2 separate regions of the Homo sapiens genome follow, and region 1 is linked to region 2. A link means that fine-mapping ties the variant in region 2 to the expression of a gene that starts in the linked region. Tissue or cell type: whole blood. Region 2 holds a variant in brackets; the other region holds the start of a gene. All regions are shown on one strand. Distances are from middle to middle.

The links. PIP is the estimated chance that this variant, and not a neighbour inherited with it, causes the effect.
Region 1: it holds the start of MAP3K14-AS1, and the variant in region 2 is fine-mapped to the expression of MAP3K14-AS1 in whole blood (TOPMed, PIP above 0.99).

What each region holds. Positions count from the first base shown.
Region 1 is chr17:45,244,890-45,250,319 of GRCh38, reverse strand. It overlaps MAP3K14-AS1 (MAP3K14 antisense RNA 1), which reads right to left and starts at 2,395. Exons shown (of 4, transcript NR_110326.1): 1 at 2,317-2,395. It overlaps FMNL1 (formin like 1), which reads right to left. Exons shown (of 27, transcript NM_005892.4): 20 at 5,421-5,430; 21 at 5,212-5,341; 22 at 4,904-5,067; 23 at 4,587-4,688; 24 at 4,347-4,442; 25 at 3,990-4,110; 26 at 3,716-3,815; 27 at 3,002-3,453. The coding sequence ends at 3,724. It also overlaps the pseudogene EFCAB15P. RefSeq lists enhancers at 1,548-1,597, 2,848-2,917 and silencers at 2,008-2,737, 4,672-4,842.
Region 2 is chr17:45,211,785-45,217,707 of GRCh38, reverse strand. All of the region lies in intron 2 of FMNL1-DT (FMNL1 divergent transcript), which reads left to right. Among named protein-coding and RNA genes, the nearest start is that of FMNL1-DT, 7.0 kb to the left of the region's middle. The variant G/C (reference allele first, on the strand shown) is at 2,829.

The sequences.
Region 1 (5,430 bases), 33 kb before region 2:
CTAGGGCTCACAGTCTTGTGTGTGTGTGTGTGTGTGTGTGTGTGTGTGTGTGTGTGTGTGTAGGAAAGGAAAAGAAAACTCAGTGGATTGGTAGATAGGTGAATGCAGGTATTTAGATGGATGGATAGATGGATGATGAACAGGATGGAAAAGAAGGGAGAAGGTAAAGAAGGAGAAAAAATGGGGGGAAAAATCTGAGTTCCCCTGCCTCATGGGGTCTAGGACCATAGGGGTAAAGGCAAAAGAAACTACAGCCCCAGTGCTCCCCCAAACAACATGTCCTGATATTGGCAAGGGCCCCTCAAAGCAGAATCACTTTATTCATCATCAACAATGGTCAGTGCCTACTACATGCCAGGCACCAGCAGGGCTCCAAGACACTGTAGCTTCAGAGCCAGACTGCCAGATGTGACCTTGGACATGAGTTTTGAATGTTTTTCAAACATGAGTTTTGGACATGAGGACTGGATGGGCACATAACATGTACCAACACACAACAGCCACTGCTACTCTTTATATTAAAAGTTATAGGCCAGGTGTGGAGGTTGATGTCTGTAATCCCAACAGTTTGGGAGGCCAAGGCGGGAGGATTACTTGAGCCCAGGACTTTGAGACCAGCCTGAGTAACATGGCGAAACCCCATCTCTACAACAAATTAAACAATAAGCCAGGCGTGGTGGCACGTACCTGTGATCCCAGCTACTCAGAAGGCTGAGGCGAGAGGATCGTTTGAGCCTTGGGAGGTTGAGGCTGCAGTGAGCCGAGATCTCGCCACTGCACTCCAGCCTGGGCAAAGAGTGAGACTCTGTCTCAAAAATAAATAAATAAATAAATAAAAATTTAAAACACCCAGGAGGGAGTTGGAATGAGCCAAGTCGTCAGTTCCACCTGAGTTAGAGTGGGCAGCTCTCAGGGTTCTTGTGTGGGTGGTTCGTCTTGCCACCTGTCCCCTCTACCCTCAGCCTTCCAGGATATCTTCAAACTCTTCAGCTCCAGCCCAACAGGCACCGTGGACATGCACAGCATGAAAGTTGCCCTGGGCAATGTGGGTATCCAGCTGAGTCCACAGGAGACGTTCGAGGCTCTGCGGCAGGCAGACTTGGATGGTGGGTGCCCCAACCCTGTCTTCTTGTCCCCTCCCACCTCCAGGCATTCTTTTAAAGAATGCCTCCCCTTCCCACAAAATCCTGGCCTGGTCCTATTTTAAAGTTCCCTCTTCCAGGAAGCCTGCCCTGACCAACACACCTATCTCATGGCCTGTAAACGTTGCTGCTGTGTTCATCCTAATCCTGATTTGGGAACCCCCAAGGCATGGGCCGTTTCTCCCCCATTGAAACTGGGGTCTGCCCTTGGCTAGAGGCAGGACTAGATTCTCTAACACCTGGAACTGCCAGCAGGCATGTGCAAGGCAGGCCTTCTGCAGGGGGCAGGCACCCACAGCACCCCCTCTCCTCTCTCCCCAGGTGATGGAATCGTAAGCTTCATTGACTTCCTGGGTGTCTTCGATGACAACCACCGCTTGGCTCAGTGCATGGGTGAGGGGCAAGGCTGGTGGAGGAGGGGTGGGCCTGGCTTAGGGGGTGCCCCCTCCTCACCCTCCTTCACCTTTTTTGCCCCCAAGCCGGGTGAGGAACAGCCAGCTCTGTACCCCCAGGGACTGCAGACCCTGTTCTTGGAAATGCTGTTCAAGCTGCTGGGCCGGGGCTTTGTGCCCTCCAAGTTGGCACGGGGGGTGATGAGGTGGGCACAACCATACCAGCTCCTGGGCCCACAATGGGAGGAGCAAACCCTGCCCCCCGCAGGGACCCCTGATATTCCTGCCCTAGAGACGGGAGCCCTGAATTCTGAGTCTGTTTCCTGGGCCCCAAGTCGCCCCAGGACAAAGACAAAGCAGCGGCTTCCGGCCCTGCTTTGGCTTCCGCACCTGTGAGACAGAGAGGGCTGGGAGTGTCTGAGGCGGCCGCCCCGCCTCTCTTCTCCAAGCTACTACTTCAAGAAGCAGCGGGCTCTGCGGCTCAGCCCAGGCTGCGGGGGTTGGGGGGCGCTCCCACGCGGGGCTCGCCTTCTGCCACGCGGCGCGCATCAGCGACCTCTCCAACTAGGAGCTGGCGCGCTCGCTGCACAAACTGCACGAAGTAGGTGCGTCCCCGACGGGGCGGGGGGCGCCGGGACCCGCGGGAGGGACCTCTCCCGGCCACTTACAACCCCCGCCCTCGCCTCCGACCCCCAGGACCCGTTCTGAGGACCGTCTCCTCCTCCACCTCCTCCCAGGCACCCGCCCCAGGTGCGCGCAGCCCGTACTCTCAGATTCCTAACCTGGAGGGGTTGGCGCTCCCGGAACGCAGGACACGAAGCCCAGCCCCGGGCCCCGGCTTCCGCCTGATCCAGCCCTACTAGCCCGGCCGCCCCAAGATCCCGCCCAGCCCGGGGCGTGTCTCGGCCTAGGTGAGAGCCGGCGGGCGGGGGAGGGACACGCAGTGAGGGGCGGGACAAGTGCCCGGAGGACAGACAGATGGGGCGACACTGGCTGGTGGAGGGGAGGGGCAGGCGAGGAGCGGGGGCAGGCCCGGAAGAAATGGGGACCCGGCAGGCGGTGACGGAGGCGGCACGCGCGGAGATGTAAGGCGAGGTCACTTATGGCGTCACTAAGTACTGGGTAGGGCGAAAGGAAAAGGGGCCAGATGCCCGGGTGGGAGGCAGGACTGGCGCAAATGGGGCGGGGCAGCCGGAAGGAGAACTGCTGCGGGGCTGGCCCGGCGTGTCTAACCCCAGCTGCCCGCTCGCCCCCTCCGGCCTCCCGCAGGGATACTGGGCCAGCCACGAAAGCCTCCGCCCCCTCGAAGCGGGCTCCCTCGCCGCCAACTCTAGTGAAGAAGCAGCCCTTCTCCCCGGCGCCCGCTGGTTTGCAGAGGCCTGCTATGAAGAGCTTGTGCAAGTAAAGCGTTTGCTGAGCGGAAACAGGCTGCGGGTGGCTGCGGCAGGCATGGAGCCGACGCGGATCTTTTGCAAACATCTTTATTAATCTCATATAAAAATAAGGTCCATGGACGGTCCTCGGGGCTGGGGCTTGCGGGGGCGAGGTGCACTTTATAAGTTACAGGCCAGGCTCCTGCTGAGGCTAAGTATGGCTATTTGGAGGGGGCTTTAGGGTGGGTGCTGCAAGCAGCATTTGGGGGAAGGGGCGGGCGATGCTGCCCTCTGTGGCCAAGAGGAGGATGCACCAGCCCGTTTGAGGCGGGCCACAGCGGAGGAGGGGCTGCCCGGCCAGCCGAGCTGAGGACCACCTTCCTTGAGCCTCAGCCTGTCCACGGCCCCACACCCCTGCAGAATCCACCTGCAGAAATAGCGGCTACAGCGAGAGGTCGGAGGTGACCTGCAGTGGGGGGCCCGGGGGACGCCGACGGGCACTGCGGCGGCCTGTGTCTGCGCGGATGTAGGGCTGGTTCCGCAGATCTGGCAGCCGAAGGAGACACATTTACCATTCAGGAGTCCGCCCAGAGCTGGGAGCATGGCTCCAGGGCACAAAGCTTAGCCTCCTAAGGACTCAGATTGTGTGCACATGGCAGGGGTACCGTTTATGTTTGCCAGACCCCTCCACCCCACAAATCACATCCCAGCCATCCACTGGCCCAGGAGAAGGCAGCATGCCTCAGTTCTCCCAAGGGTCCCAGGGGCTGTGGGCAGCGTGGTATCAGAGGCCAGGTCATCTGGGTACCTGAGGGGCTAGAGGGGCATCTCTTCTCCCAGGCTGGCCTCACAGAGGAGCCGGGATGTCCGCTTGCCGGTGCGGGCCGTGAAGGGCACCGTCTTGATCACTGAGTGGGGGTGGGGCAGGTGAAGGGGAGTAGAGAAAGGAAAAAGGAAAGAAAAACAGAAAAGGTAGCAAGAAGCAGTGTGGCAGCCAGTCCCCCAGAGGATAGCGCATTGGGTCAGAAGAAAGCATAGAAGGACAGACTGAGGATAAGACCAAGGCCTGGCCAAGCCCTTACCTGTGATGATGTCTTCAATGGCCCCATCACGGTCGCTCTCATAAATGAGTGGCTCCTTCTGCTGCCTCCGTTTCAGCTCAGAGATGAGGTCCATCTGTGGCCGCCGGGCCTTTGGCGGTGACTAGGGGGAATTTATAGCTCCAGCTCCAGGATGCCTCCCCATCACCAAAACCCTGGAATATCTGCCTGGTCCCCCACAGCAAGGACAGCTGGCTTGAGCAGAAAGAACCCTTTCCCATCCCAGGCTCCTGGGGCAGGGTCAGTCTGTAACAGTGAGGGTGTGGGGGTGGCACCAGAGGGTGATGAGATGCCATGCATCCCTGCAGCCCAGTACCAAGCCCAGGAGCAGTTGCCTACCTTGGGTGCTGGGGGCTCCCCTTTGCCCGGGGTATCAGCGCCTGCCTCCTGGGCAGCGGCTTCTTTTTTCCACTGTTCCACCTCCTGCTCAGCTTTCTGTGGGCCAAGGCAGTCTCCATGAGGGTGGCCCTCCCTACTGCCCTACCCACCCCCTAAACAGAAGCAGCCCCACCCCTCCGCTGCCCAGTAGAAAGGCTTCAGTGCCCTACAGGGCTCCCAGCCTGCCCCAGACCCGAATACCTTGTAGGCCTTAATGAAGCGGCTAAAGAGGGAGAAGAACAGGCCTGGGGATGTGGTCTTGGGGTTCTCTCCGAAGTACTCCACCACAGACTCAAAGGCCTCCTGTGGGCACAGCCTGTCAGCCCCCCAGCTTAGACCTCTCACAGCCTGTACCCCTCAGGACACTGGCCACCTGATCTGAGCTCCTCCCAGGCAGGGTGGCCCCTCATTCCTGCTGCATCCCCCCAAGGGGTCCCAGCTACGGCCACACCCCTCCAGGCTGTGCTATCTAGTGCTCCTACATGCCCCACCTCCAGGTGAGGCCAGCCCTGGCGCACCTGAGCCGTCTTGCTGTCTGCCAGCAGCTTGTCCATGGTGGGCGAGTTGGCCCTCAGGAACTCCTTGAGCACCATGCAGTCATCCTGCCGCACAAACTCTCTCTGTGTCAACTCTAGGCCTCGCTGCAGGGAGCGCACGTCCGCCAGGACACTGTCCAGGGACACTGGGCCAGGGATGGGGCAGTATCAGGTCAGTGAATCGGAGAGGCAGCCCTCCCACCAATTATATACTGTGGCCCCCTAGCTTTCTCCCAACCTACCCCAGCCCACGGCCCCTCCCCACACCCAAGGATCTGTGTGTCTCCTACCTGAGCCCGCCTTGTCCAGGAAGTGCAGGTCGCTGTGGAAGCCTGTGAGTTGCGGGTACTTCTCAGCAATGACCTTCACCAGGTAGTGCAGCAGCGTCTGCTTGCGATCAGTCGACTTCATCTCCAACAGCTGCACAAGGACCCATTGTAAGCCACAGGCCACCAGCCAGTCCCCAGCCCCAGTCCCCAAGCCAGGGGCCCCTCCTCACCGCATCCAGG
Region 2 (5,923 bases):
GCCTGTAATCCCAGGTACTCGGGAGGCTGAGGCAGGAGAATCACTTGAACTTGGGAGGCGGAGGGTGCCGCGAGCCAAGATCACGCCAGTGCACTCTAGCCTGGGCAACAGAGCAAGACTCCATCTCGAAGGAAGGAAGGAAGGAAGGAAGGAAGGAAGGAAGGAAGGAAGGAAGGAAGGAAGGAAGGGGAAAGAAAGGAAAGATCTCTTGCCAATCAGCCTCCCTGTTGCCCTGTTTCCCATTCCCTCCCCAGAGGCAACCACTCTTAACAGTTTTTTTGTTTTTGTTTTTGTTTTTTTTTAGACAGAGTCTCACTCTGTTGCCCAGGCGGCTGGAGTGCAGTGGTGTGATCTCAGCTCACTGCGACCTCCGCTTCCCAGATTCAAGCAATTCTCCTGCCTCAGCCTCCTGAGTAGCTGGGACTACAGGTGTGTGCCACCACGTTCAGCTAATTTTTGTATTTTTAGTAGAGACGGGGTTTCACCATGTTGGCCAGGCTGGTCTTGAACTCCTGACCTCAAGTGATCCACCCGCCTTGGCCTCCCAAAGTGCTGGGATTACAGGTGTGAGCCACCGCGCCTGGCCTCTTAACAGTTCTAATGTATCTTTGCAGAGCTATTTGGAGCATATGCTGTGTATATGTGCGTGTGTGTGTGACACAAATGATAGCACACGCTCTACACTGTTCAGCACCTGCTATTTTCATGTCATAATATACCTGCCTGTAGATAGTCAACATAGTTTTCCATCGTATGGTGTGTCACAATTTATTTACCATTCCCCTCCTAGTGGATATTTATGTATGTCCGCCTTTTATTACTACAAACAATGCTAATTACAGGAAATATCTTGGTACATATATTTGCAGACATATGTGTGTGTGTGAAATAAATTTATAAGTATGGCAATTCTGGGTCAAAGATTATGTGCTCTTAAATGTTTTATAGGTTTTCACAGAATTGCCCTCCAAAAATTTTGTACCAATTTACAATCCCCAACAACGGATGAGATCACCTGTTTCCCCAAATCCTCACAAACAGGTTAATATCAGGCCTTTTGATCTTAGGTGATGACTCTTTAAAAGTCCTGCTCACAGAGCAGTTGATGATCTGTCTTTTTCTTTGGGCCGCGGGTTTCTCCAAGGAAGGGACTGTGTCTTTCTCATACCTACATCCCCAGTGAAGGACTTGACACCATCCTTGGGAGTTACTCAAGAAGTGTCTGCTAAATATTGAGTGAAAGAAACAGAGCTGCATTTTGGCAGGCTGGGAGGGAGAGGGTAAAAGGTTAGGTTTGAACAGGAGGCCTGCTTTTTTTTTTTTTTTTTGAGATGGAGTCTCACTCTGTTGCCCAGGCTGGAGTGCAGTGGCGCGATCTCAGCTCACTGCAACCTCCAAGGAGGACTGCTCTTTAGGGCCACTTTCTCTTCCAGACCCTGGTCAAGCCTCTGCCCCAAATCCAAAAGCCTTCCTCTTGCAGGAGCCTCCCAGGTTGCAAGGTCTGAGGTTGAAGGCCCAGAACTCCCAGTGCAGCTTTCACCCAGCTCTGCTGCATTCCAGGGATGGGCCCCATCATCCCCAAGCTGCCTGAGAACTGGAAACAAACTAGGTGTCCAGCTTTAGGGGATCAGTTAAACCACTGTCCTATAGAACTTTCTGCAATGATGAAAATGTTCTCTATCTGCCCTGTCCAATATGGCAGCCACTGGCCACTCGTAGCTACCGAGTATTCAAGCTGTAGCTAGTTCAACTAAGGAAATAAATAAATGTTACTTAATTTTAATTAATTTCCATTTAAGTAGCCATGTGTGGCTACATATTGGACAGTGAAGGGTTCAGTAAATTATGATATAGCCCCACAATGGAAAACTATGCAGCTGTAAAAAAAAAAAATAATAAGGATGCCAAGAAAAATGGAAAGATCTTCAGGATATATTTTGAAACAAAAATGTGGTACAGGCTGTGTGCAGTGGCTCACGCCAATAATCCCAGCACTTTGGGAGGCCAAGGTGAGAGGCCGAGGCAGGAGGATCACTTGAGTCCAGGGGTTCAAGACCAGCCTGGTCAACATAATGAGACTTCCGTCTCTACAGAAAGTGAAAAAAAAAAAAAAGACAGCATGGTGGTATATGAATGTAGTCCCATCTACTCAGGAAGCTGAGGTGGGAGGATTGCTTGAGCCAGGGAAGTTGAGGCTGCAGTAAGCTGTGATTGTGCCACCACACTCCAGCCTGTGTGACAGAGCAAGACCCCATCTAAAAAAAAAAAAAAAGGCCAGGCACGATGGCTCACACATGTAATCCCAGCACTTTGGGAGGCCGAGGACCGTGGATCACCTGAGGTTGGGAGCTCAAGACCAGCCTGACCAACATAGAGAAACCTCATCTCTACTAAAAACACAAAATTAGCTGGGTGTGGTGGCACATGCCTATAATCCCAGCTACTCAGAAGACTGAGGCAGAAGAACCACTTGAACCCAGGAGGCGGAGGTTGCGGTGAGCCAAGATAGTGCCATTGCACTTCAGCCTGGGTAACAAGAGCGAAACTCTGTCTCAAAAAAAAAAATGTGGTTCAGAACAGTATACATAGTATGTCATCTTTTTTGAAAGAAAGGCAGGTAGGCCGGGCGCAGTGGCTCACACCTGTAATCCCAGCACTTTGGGAGGCCGAGGTGGGCGGATCACGAGGTCAGGAGATTGAGACCATCCTGGCTAACGCGGTGAAACCCTGTCTCTACTAAAAATACAAAAAATTAGCCGGGCGTAGGTGGTGCACTCCTGTAGTCCCAGCTACTCGGGAGGCTGAGGCAGGAGAATGGCGTAAAACCC[G/C]GGAGGCTGAGCTTGCAGTGAGCCAAGATCGCGCCACTGTACTTCAGCCTGGGAGACAGAGCGAGATTCCGTCTCAAAAAATAAAAAAAAAAGAAAAAGAAAGGCAGGTAGAGGAGGCTGGATGTGGTGGCTCATGCCTGTAATACCAGCACTTTGGGAGGCCAAGGGGGACAGATCACTTGCAGAAATGTGAGACCGGCCTGGACAACATGGTGAAACCCCATCTCTACACAAAATACAAAAATTAGTTGGACGTGGTAGTGCGCACCTGTAGTCCCAGCTACTCAGGAGGCTAAAGTGGGAGGGTTGCTTGAGCTGGGGAAGTCAAGGCTGCAGTGAGCCAAGATTGCACCACTGCACTCCAGCAGGGGTGACAGAGGGAGACAGCAGGAGTGACAGAGTGAGACCCTGTCTCAAAAAAAAAAAGAAAAGAGCTTTGCACAGTGGTAGTATCGTAGCCAATGAATGAAAGGGAGGTGGAAATAAAAATAAATGTTTATATTTGCTTGAATTTGCATAGGGAAAGCAATAACAGTGGGTGACCTATAGGGAGCTGGGGAATCCTGTTGCGGGGGTAGGCAAGGACAGGGTGGGAACAGAGCTTTCCAGTGAATTTCTTTATATTTCATTTTGGTTGTTGAAACATGTACATATATTACCTATTCAAAAAGTTAAATTAAGGTCAGGTGCAGTGGCTCATGCCCGTAATCCCAGTACTTTGGGAGGTTGAGGTAGGAGGATCACTTTACCCCAGGAGTTGGAGACCAGCCTGGGCAATATAGTGAGACCTCCTTTCTACAAAAAGTTTACAAATTAGCCATAAGCCAGGTGCGGTGGCTCACACCTGTAATCCCAGCACTTTGGGAGGCGGAGGCAGGCAGATCACTTGAGGTCAGGAGTCCGAGACCAGCCTGGCCAACATGGTGAAACCTCATCTCTACTAAAAATACAAAAATTAGCTGGGAATGGCAGCAGGTGCCTATAATCCCAACTACTTGGGAGGCTGAGACAGGAGAATCGCTTGAGCCCGGGAGGCAGAGGCTACAGTGAGTCAAGATCACGCCACTACACTACACTCCAGCCTGGGCAACAGAGCAAGACTCCGTCTCAAAAAAAAAAAAATTAGCCATATACGGTGACACGCTCCTGTAGTCCCAGATACTTGGGAGGCTGAGATGGGAAAGTCACTTGAGCCAGGGAAGTTGAGGCTGCAGAGAGCCAAGATCGCGCCACTGCTCTCCTGCCTGTGCGACACAGTGAGACTATGTCTCAAAAAAATGAAAAGGTGGCTGGGCACAAGGCTCACACCTGTAATCCCAGCACTTTGGGAGACTGAGGCAGGCAGATCACTTGAGGCCATGAGTTCGAGACCAGACTGGCTAACATGGTAAAACCCCATCTCTACTAAAAATACAAAAATTATCTGGGTGTGGCAGTGTGTGCCTGTAGTCCCAGCTACTAGAGAGGCTGAGGCAGAAGAATCACTTGAACCCGGGAGGCAGAGGTTGCAGCGAGCCGAAATTGTACTACTGCACTCCAGCCTGGGTGGCAAAGCGAGACTCCCTCTCAAAAAAAAAAAAAGTAAATTAAAATTAAAGCAAATTGCTTGCTATTTAACCACGAGGGCTGCTCTCTCCCTCTTCTTGGCAACTCGTGATAGTCACTACGTTATCCTTTCTTTTTTTTTTTTTTTTTTTTGAGACAAAGCCTTGTTCTGTCGCCCAGACTGGAGTGCAGTGGTGTGATCTCAGCTCACTGCAACCTCCGCCTCCTGGGTTAAAGCAATTCTTCTGCCTCAGCCTCCTGAGTAGCTGGGATTACAGGTGCATGCCACCATGCCCGGCTAATTTTTGTATTTTTTTAGTAGAGACGGGGTTTCACCATATTGGCCAGGCTGGTCTCGAACTCCTGACCTTGTGATCCGCCCACCTCGGCCTCCCAAAGTGCTGGGATTACAGGTGTGAGCCACTGCACCCAACCCAACGCTATCCTTTCTATGTAACTCACTAGAGGACAGCCCCAGGGAGTGGACCAGCAAAGACCGCATGAGCCATACCCCAGTGACACAGGCTCCCAAACCCGGCCATGTATCACAATCAGAATCTGGGGGGAGTACGGTCAGGGATCTGTGTCTTTTAAAGTCCTCCAGGTAATTCAGTCAGTTACTGACCTGTCCTTGTCAATGCTTCCCAGTGAAGAGAGTACAGGCTACATGTCCCAGGTACATATCCCTTCCCTTTAGACAGCAGTCATCACTGACGTCTTCTGAGTACCAGTGCTGTGCCAGACACTGAGGCATTCTACGTGTTACTGTAAGGCAAACAGCATCCCGGCAGGGCAGGCCTCGCCAATGTGCTCACTGAGCTCGGTGTCCTCTGGAGTGACTGACTTATTCAATGTCATATTGCTGGTAAATGTCAGAACTAGGATCTGAATGCAGTCATAAACTCCCTGAGCCTCTGTTTTCTTCTCTGAAAAAAAAAAAAAATGGTGACATGATTTTATTGAATTGTTTTGAATGTTCAATACAATTTTATGTAAAGCACTTAGCAGAGACTTTTATTTCCAGCAATAAGGTGGACTATATATGTTCAGAAAAACTCTTGTGTACAAAACAGCTAGAAATGCTAGATAAAAAATTTAAAAAAAATGTATATGGGTCTCCTTCCTTCCTTCCTTTCCTTCTTTCCTTCTTTGCTTCTTTGCTTCCTTCCTTCCCTCCCTCTCTCCCTCTCCTTCCTTCTCTCTTTCTCTCTCTTTCTTTCTCTCTCTTTCTCTCTTCCTCTCTTTCTCTCTCTCTCTGTTTCTCTGTTTCTCTCTTTCTTTCTCTTGCTGTGTTGCCCAGGCTGGAGTGCAGTGTTGTGATCTTGGCTCACTGCAGCCTCCACCTCCTGGCTTCAAGCAATTCTCTTGCTTCAGCCTCTTGAGCCTTGAGTAGCTGGGACTACAGGTGTGCATCACCATCCCTGGCTAATTTTTATATTTTTAGTACAGACGGGGTTTCACCATGTTGGCCAGGCTGGTCTCAAACTCCTGACCTCAACTGATCCACCCACCTCGGCCTCCCAAAGTGTTGGGATTACAGGCGTGAGCCA